2 linked regions of the Homo sapiens genome follow. The protein of the gene in region 2 interacts with the protein of the main gene of each other region in a pairwise test. Each region holds a gene or a part of one and is shown on either strand. Other genes may lie near its edges.

Region 1 (3,500 bases), on a different chromosome or scaffold from region 2:
TAAAATTTTATGTTAATATAACTATCTGTAATCTATGAAACCATTTCCAAATAACTAATGAGGAATTTGCATTTTGTTATAATATTAGAAGGTATGTCAATTCGTGATATATTTTCCTTCTCATACCCACAATACTCACCTCATCTGCCAGAAGTGATAATTCAGTACTGTTTGCTGCATCATAATCATAGAGAACCCTGGCCTTTCTGCTGCCACTACACTCCTTAAGGTCACTGAGGTTGGAAGGAGAGGTGATTACTAGGCCACTTGTTGAAGCCATGGCAGAAGAACCAATCGCATTTGGTAAAACTGATGGTACAGGTGTCACAGAAGTCTGATTGTTGTTACTAAGATAATTGGATGGAAAACTGTTGAAAAGAAAGCAGCGAATTATTTATTTCCAAGTGACTAAAGCTCCTTAATACCACCACTCGGTGGCGCTGTTTACTTTCTACCAACCTTCACATTGGAAAAGATTTATAGATATTAATAATACGTTAATGACAAAGTATATCTATCTTCCTTTTCCCTCTTGGGCCAATTATACTAGAGACAATTCAGGTGGTATTCAAATATAAATCCTTGAAAGTCTGTTTCAAAACTGTCCTTATAATATTAACTTAAAATTAATGGCTATACTTTTTTCCCCAAAAAACTTCCATTAGAATGTTTTCTTAATCTTTTCTTTATAAATTACTAAATAAAAATATTGATGAAAAACTACTTAAATATTAGATACTACAAGTATGAGGCTTTCTTAATTTAATTCTTTGAGAAATATTTGAATAACTAAACCTTTTTTTCATAAACTGGTCCAATCACATTTTCCTATTCAAATAAAATATTTATTGTCATTTACATGTAAGTATTATTTACTTGTATCTACATGTTCAGCATGACTATGAGAAGCAGAAGACGTAAGATGAAATGATACTATTCCCTTAAGGACATACACATAGTGAGAAGGTAGACATTCAAATAATATGACTGCTAATTATCTCAATGAAATTGAAGACTCAATGGTAGAATAGGACAAATTTTACAAGTTCATTTGTGCTATTTTTTAGAAAAATTTTCTATTAGAAATTAGTGATTTTTGTGATTAATGTGCTCATAAATAATTTGAAGATAATTAGAATTTTCAGTTTATTTTAAGGCTAGTTTCCCCAATAATACCAAATATAAAACAGTACAAAATAGCTGGTCTGACATCATTCTAATTCAACCATTTCTAAGCTAAAAAATGATCTACAAAAATTCAAAGTTTTAATAAATTCATTAAACTAGAAAAGTCCTCTTTTCTCTTCACGAGCACTATACCATCTGGAAATCATTTCAGTCATCAGCAAAATTCCCTGTATCCTTAACCTCTTCTCTAAACCTTCCCTTCATCCTCCAGTGCTAGCGTTTATCTCCCATACTCCTCTTTTATCACTGAACCTAGAGGTCAATGGAGGAGTCTTATGTTCTTCATCACTGTTTTTAGACTCTTTTCCCTAAACAATTCTAGCCAATCCTTCAACTTCATGTTATTCAACTATAGCACATCATCTTTTCCTCCCACATTATCATATTTTATCATATTACATTTTATCATATTATCTTTCCTTCCCATATTACATTTTCTCCATCTATTGTATCATTCCCAACTCTTTAAAAAAAGAGATACCCAGTATCTCTTACTGCAATCACCTACAGATGCCTCATTCCCTTACTTTCATTTCTAGAAGATTTTATCACCTGGCTCACTGACATTATCTCTTACTTAATTCTTGGTGACTTTAATATCCAAATGGACAATTCTTCCAACCCTTTAGCCTCTTAGATCCTCGAACTCTTCTCTTCTAGTGACTTCATACCTGATCCTAGTTCAGCCACCTATTCCCACAGTCACATCTAGATCTTACCAATTCCAGTAACCACAACCCTTCCAATAATAATAGTTTCTACTATCCCATTCTTTGACCATCGCCTTTTTCTTTCAAGTGCTCTCACATCAACAAGCCTACCAGGGTCTATGATCCTACCAACACCTTCTTCATGTCCATAGTTAATTATTATAATAACTCTTAGATATGCTCTCATTTCTTATGCCACTCACTTCATTGTACTGATTTGGTAAAAACCTATTTACCTATTCAGTATCCATGCATCTACTTTAACAGGAGAAACACAGAAAAGCTTTGTTTTACATTCAATTTATGACTAGGAACCTCAAGTGGGTCCACATGCCACCTGGCAATGATACTACATTTCTCTACTCCATTCACTTTCACTTTCATTCCCCTGATGACTATTTCATACCCTCTTGCCCATCCTCAAAATTTCAGCAGTTCTCCCCATAACCATTACACTCAGTTGATGAGCTTGCTTCCTTTTAACTGAGAGGAAAAAAGAACAATCAGGAACTCCTTTTTTTTTTTTTGATACAGGAGTTCATTCCTTTTGCCCAGGCTGTAGTGCAGTGGTTCAATCTTGGCTCACTGCAACCTCTGCTTCCTGGGCTTAAGCAAGCAATTCTCTCGCCTCAGCTTCCTGAGTAGCTGGGACTACAGACATGCACCTCCACACCCAGTTAATTTTTGTATTTTTTTGTAGAGACAGCGTTTCACCATATTGACCAGGCTAATCTCAAACTCCTGAGCTCAAGTGATCTGCCCACCTTGATCTCCCAAAGTGCTGGGATTACAGGCATGAGCCACTGCGCCTGGCCAGGAAACTCTTTAATGAGCTGTCTATGCTCCTGATGCTAATTCCTCCATATGTGCACAAAATCTCATCCTTTTTTGCCTCTCTAGGGTATCACTCTAGCAATTCTTCCCTTTCCCTCCCACATTATCATATTTTCTCCACCTAGTGTATCATTCCCATCAGCTTACAAACATGCCCTTATTTCTCCTATCTTAAAAAACAAGCAAAAAATTGCTAGACCCCACTTTCTCCTCCGACTACTGCCTCATTCCTCTGTTCCCCTTTACACCAAAACCCCTTGAAAGATTTACGTATTCTTACGGTCACAATTCCTCTCCTCCGAGTCTCTTATATTACAAACATTACTTTGCGCCTACTGTTTCACCAAAACTACTCGTCAAGGTTAGCAATGACTTTAATGTTCCTAAATCCAATGGTCAATTCGTAGTCCTCTCACTTGACCTAGGCAGTGACCATTCTCTCCCACTTTCACACATGTTCACTTGACTTCCAGGCCATACTCTTAGTTTCCATTTTACCTCACTGCCTCACTCGTTATCATCTTCCTTGCCTCGTTCCTCAACTCTCTATGCTAGAGTACTTCAGGGATCAGTCCTTGATCCTCTCCTTTTCTCTATACTTACTCCTTTGAGGGTTTATCTAGTCTCACAGATTTAAATATCTTTGATATGCTGACAACTCTCTAATTATCTAATTCACCCTGCCCCCAATCCAAGTCCAGACCTGCATATCCTAAAATTGGATACCTCCACTTAAATGTTTAAGAGACATCTCAAACTTAACATATT
Region 2 (4,277 bases):
AACTCAGGTGATCCGCCCGCCTCGGCCTCCCAAAGTGCTGGGATTACAGGTGTGAGCTACCGCACCCGGCCCTAAATTGTCTTTATACTATCATTACACTGTATGATTATGTAAATGTTAACAAGACTAGACTGAAACTGAAATGTAGAAAAACTAAAGGCATTAATCAAGTTATGGGTGAGAAGCTAGCTTGAATTTGTTTTCCTATTTTGGCTTCTTTTAATATTACTGCTGTATTTTTTGTGCGTGTAATAGAAGAATTTTTCCAAGTCAGTGGAGTTAGGAAAATTTCCCACCAACAAGTTGGTATGGGACATTGAAGGAGTTTTGATTCAGCTAAATATTTGCCTGAAATTTTGGATCCATTGACCATTGAGAGTGGAGTGACCTAGATAATTCCTTCACTCTGATACAAAAGGGGATTTGGAGTTACCGAGAGATTTGAATACATCTGTCCAAGAACTGACTCTATGCAGGAGACAATCAAGGGAAATGATAGAGGAAAAGATGAAAAGCCCCTTCTCTGTGAGCCTCTGCTCACAGAGGCTGGTTCTACCATCGGCCTCTCCCACTCCCCAGAATTCTGCTTGTCCCCCTGGCTTCATGCCCTCCTCGGGAGATTTATGTAAATCGTGGCATCTTGTGCTGCCCCTGCAGACCTGTCACCTGGGAAGGGCACAGCCCTTTACAATCCTCTCCTGACTGGGGATTTGCAGCAGTAATCTCCATCCACAAGAAAATAAAATCCCAAGAAGTGACCTTCACTTGGACGTCCCTTCCATCTGCAGGGCAGATATAAGCTAGCTATTTGGGCGTCATTAATGTTGTTTTGGGCTTCAAACATGTCCTGCTGCTGGTGCCAATGCCCTGAGTTCAAGTTCCCTTTGGACTTGCCAGCCTCACTGGGAAGAAAAAAAAACCACCCTTAGGAATAACTGAACCCCTAACCTCAGCCAGGTAGGGTCGAGTCAGACAGAAAGAAGAGGTGAGGGAAAGCGGCTGCCTCAAGGCAGGCTGCCCTTTCCCTGAAAAGTCACTCGAGCCCCAGGTTGGTGGGTGTGTTGGGAAGAGCAGCCCGCTGGAGCCAGTGCACAGGCTGTTCCCTCCGACACAGTGGTCGAGAGTCTCTCTCTCACCAGCACCTCCCACAGCCCATCGCAGCATTTTACTTTTACATATGCCAAGAATACTTTAGAAATGCTTTATCACATTGCACTATCATGACTCGCTAAGTAAACACCAGCAAGCATTTAATGAGTACCTGCTGCATGCCAGCTACCAGGCAGGGCTAGGAGGTGACTTCCAAAATTACCTATTCTATTCCAGTGCTCATTTAAAAGATGGGCAAGCCAAAGCGCAGAGTGACTAGTGACCTGCCCAAGGTCACAAGACCTTGAACAACAGAACCAAAACTTCACCCTAGATCTCATGACTTCCCCTTCCTATGCTCTTTCCAACATATCCAGACAAACATCTTGGGAATGGATGCTCAGGGTTGAAAGGTTGGAAAACAAGGGAACTAACTAGGAAATTTAAACTTCTGGGACTGAATCCATCTACTTTGAATGAATGGGACAAATAGCCAAATAGTACCTCAGTGTTTGTGATCTATGAATGACTTCCATCCCTCTGTATAAAGTGGACACACATTGCTGCCTGGCTCTTCATCCCAAGGGGCTCCTATCCAAACAGCTTATATAAATTGATACCTTCCTACCACCTTAGCCAATGTTAGGTTGAACCCTATGAAGTTGTCATTTTTTATGGGTCAAAGAGGTAGAATATTAGCAATTTCATATGGTTCCACCTGATACACCCTCACATACGCAGCAATAAGTTGTGCACCCGATGGAGAGGAAAAGGCACTGGGTGCGGGGAGAGGGGCTGGTCAGAGGCCTGAGCCTCAGTGTCCCCAATATATTCATAGCTCTGACCCCAGGACTGGAAGCCACTCACTCTTTGACTTCTTTGGAGGAAAAGTCCAGGTAGCGATTGCTGATCCACTGAATCTCAAACCAGTCCCGAAAACCGTTGTTGCCGCAGCATTTGAACTCGATCTGCAGCATGTCGATGGTCTTCTTCATGAAACACCTGCCAGGGGTGTCTGTGTCCCGGTAGTACTTCATGCCGTTCTTGAGCCCTTGGCCCAGGGTGTTCTCCAGCGAGCCCCGAAGCAGAAAGCAGCAGAGAGCCACAAGGAAGAGGATGATGTTGAAGAGAACACAGATAGCCAGGTACGGCTTCAGCCAGGGCTTCCATCTGGCATACTTGGCTGGGTCCAGGGCGTCGTAGCAGATCTTCCCAGCCAGCGAGTTGAAGACACAGGATAGCACCCCCATCCCTATCAATGAGTTGGGCACAAAATGGCTCTCAGAATTATTCATCACATCGCTCCTCTTTCGGAGTTCAATCTTCAGGAACAGTCCTAGGCTGAAGATGATGATGCCAGCCAACACGGAGAACCAGTTCATGAGCCAGAGCCCTTGGGCCAACTTGACCCGCTTCTTCTGGTCAAACTTGACTTTCAGTAGCGCCATGCTTGCCAAGTGTAGTCCGGGTTGCTTCCCACAGCACAGCTCCCACCCCAAACCTTAACGAGCCCAGAGGCGGAGACTTAGGGCCTTGGGAAAAGTGCAGATGGCCCAAGCTGTAGGGAGCTGCCCTGGGGGCTACCCATGTCGAGTCCCACTAGCCTGGGATCCCCGTGAATGCAGTAGTGGTGGCAGGGGTCTCGGAATCACAGCTTGAGCAGGGGATAGTCCTGGTCCTGGGCGTTGTTTCTTCAGCGCCCTTCCCAGCCAAGAAGGGGCAGCCTGAACGCTGCAGATTAAAAGTGGGATCCACAAGACATTTTGCTAATCTCTTTAGCCAGGTTCATCCCATTAGATAAAGCCATGCCACTCTCAAAACATGGTCAAAAGCAGCCTCCAGGTACATGCTGAACCAGAAAGCTCTGGGTACAGCTTGGAGAATCAGGAGCAAAGGGCAAGACTGGCCAGAAGAATGGGCTGTATCTGGATGTCTGGCTCAGACCGTGTTGCTCCCCAAAAGCATATTTCCAGGCCAATCTCCTTCAACATTTAAAACTTTCTGTAGGACAAATAAATTGTTATCCTCTCTGAGAAAAGAAATGACAGGGCCAGGCACAGTGGATCACGCCTATAATCCCAGCACTTTGGGAGACCAAGTTGGGTGGATCACTTGAGCCCAGGAGTTCAAGACCAGCCTGGGCTACATAGGAAGACCCCATCTCCACACACACACACACACACACAAAAAAAAAAAAAAAAAAATTAGCTGGGTATGGTGGCATGCACCTGTAGTTCTCCCAGCTACTCTGGAGGCTGAGGTGGCAAGATCACCTGAGCCTGGGGAGTTCAAGGCTGCACTGAGCCATGATCGTGCCACTGCACTCCAGCCTGGGTGACAGAGTGAGGCCCTGTCTCAAATTTTAAAAAGACAAAGAAAAGAAGAGAAGAAGGAAGGAAAGAAAGAAAGTGACAGATCGTGAGAAAACATTTGCAACTTGTAAAATTAAAAAGTAATATACAGTGGCCAGGCATGGTGGCTTATGCCTGTAATCCCAGTACTTTGGGAGGCCAAGGCAGGTGGATCGCTTGAGCCCAGGAGGTGGAGGTTGCACTGAACTGAGATCCCCACATTGCACTCCAGCCTGGGTGACAGTGAGACTCTGTCTGGAAAAAAAAAAAAAAGAATTAATATGCAAAAATGTTTTAAGTCTCACAAATTCACAATAAACAAAAATTCACAATCAAAAGACCAATAATCAACTGGAAAAATAGGCAAAAACCAGGAACAGACAATTCATAATTAGGAAACTTGAAAAGTCCAATAATCTGGAAAAGATCTCAACTTGGGTAATAAGCAGGAAAATGCAAATCCAAACAACAATAAAATACCAAACTTGGCCGGGCACAGTGGTTCACACCTGTAATCCCAGCAGTTTGGAAGGCCAAGGTGGGTGGATCACTTGAGGTCAGGCATTCAAGACCAGCCTGGCCAACATGGTGAAACCCTGTCTCTACTAAAAATACAAAAATTGTCTGGGTATGGTGACAGGCACCTGTAATCCCAGTTACTTGTGAGGCTGAGGAAGGAGCATCAATTGAACCCGGGAAGTGGAGGTTGCAGTGAGCCAAGATTGCGCCATTGCACTCCAGCCTGGGTGACAAGAGTGAAATGACGTCTCAAAAAAAGAAAAAGACCAAACTCGATCCATCAAATTGAATGTATGTCAAAATTCTGTCACCATACAT

The links. Proteins that work in one complex are often made in the same cells at the same time.
Region 1: the proteins of PRPH2 (region 2) and SH3GLB1 interact in binary tests that used the Homo sapiens proteins (3 or more experiments, as listed by UniProt).

The regions. Positions count from the first base shown.
Region 1 is NC_000001.11:86,739,076-86,742,575, reverse strand, and holds part of SH3GLB1 (endophilin-B1), read right to left. Parts: intron 369-3,500; coding exon 140-368; intron 1-139. UniProt on the Homo sapiens protein: May be required for normal outer mitochondrial membrane dynamics. Required for coatomer-mediated retrograde transport in certain cells. May recruit other proteins to membranes with high curvature. May promote membrane fusion.
Region 2 is NC_000006.12:42,719,798-42,724,074, forward strand, and holds the start of PRPH2 (peripherin-2), read right to left. Parts: upstream 2,801-4,277; 5' UTR 2,538-2,800; coding exon 1,957-2,537; intron 1-1,956.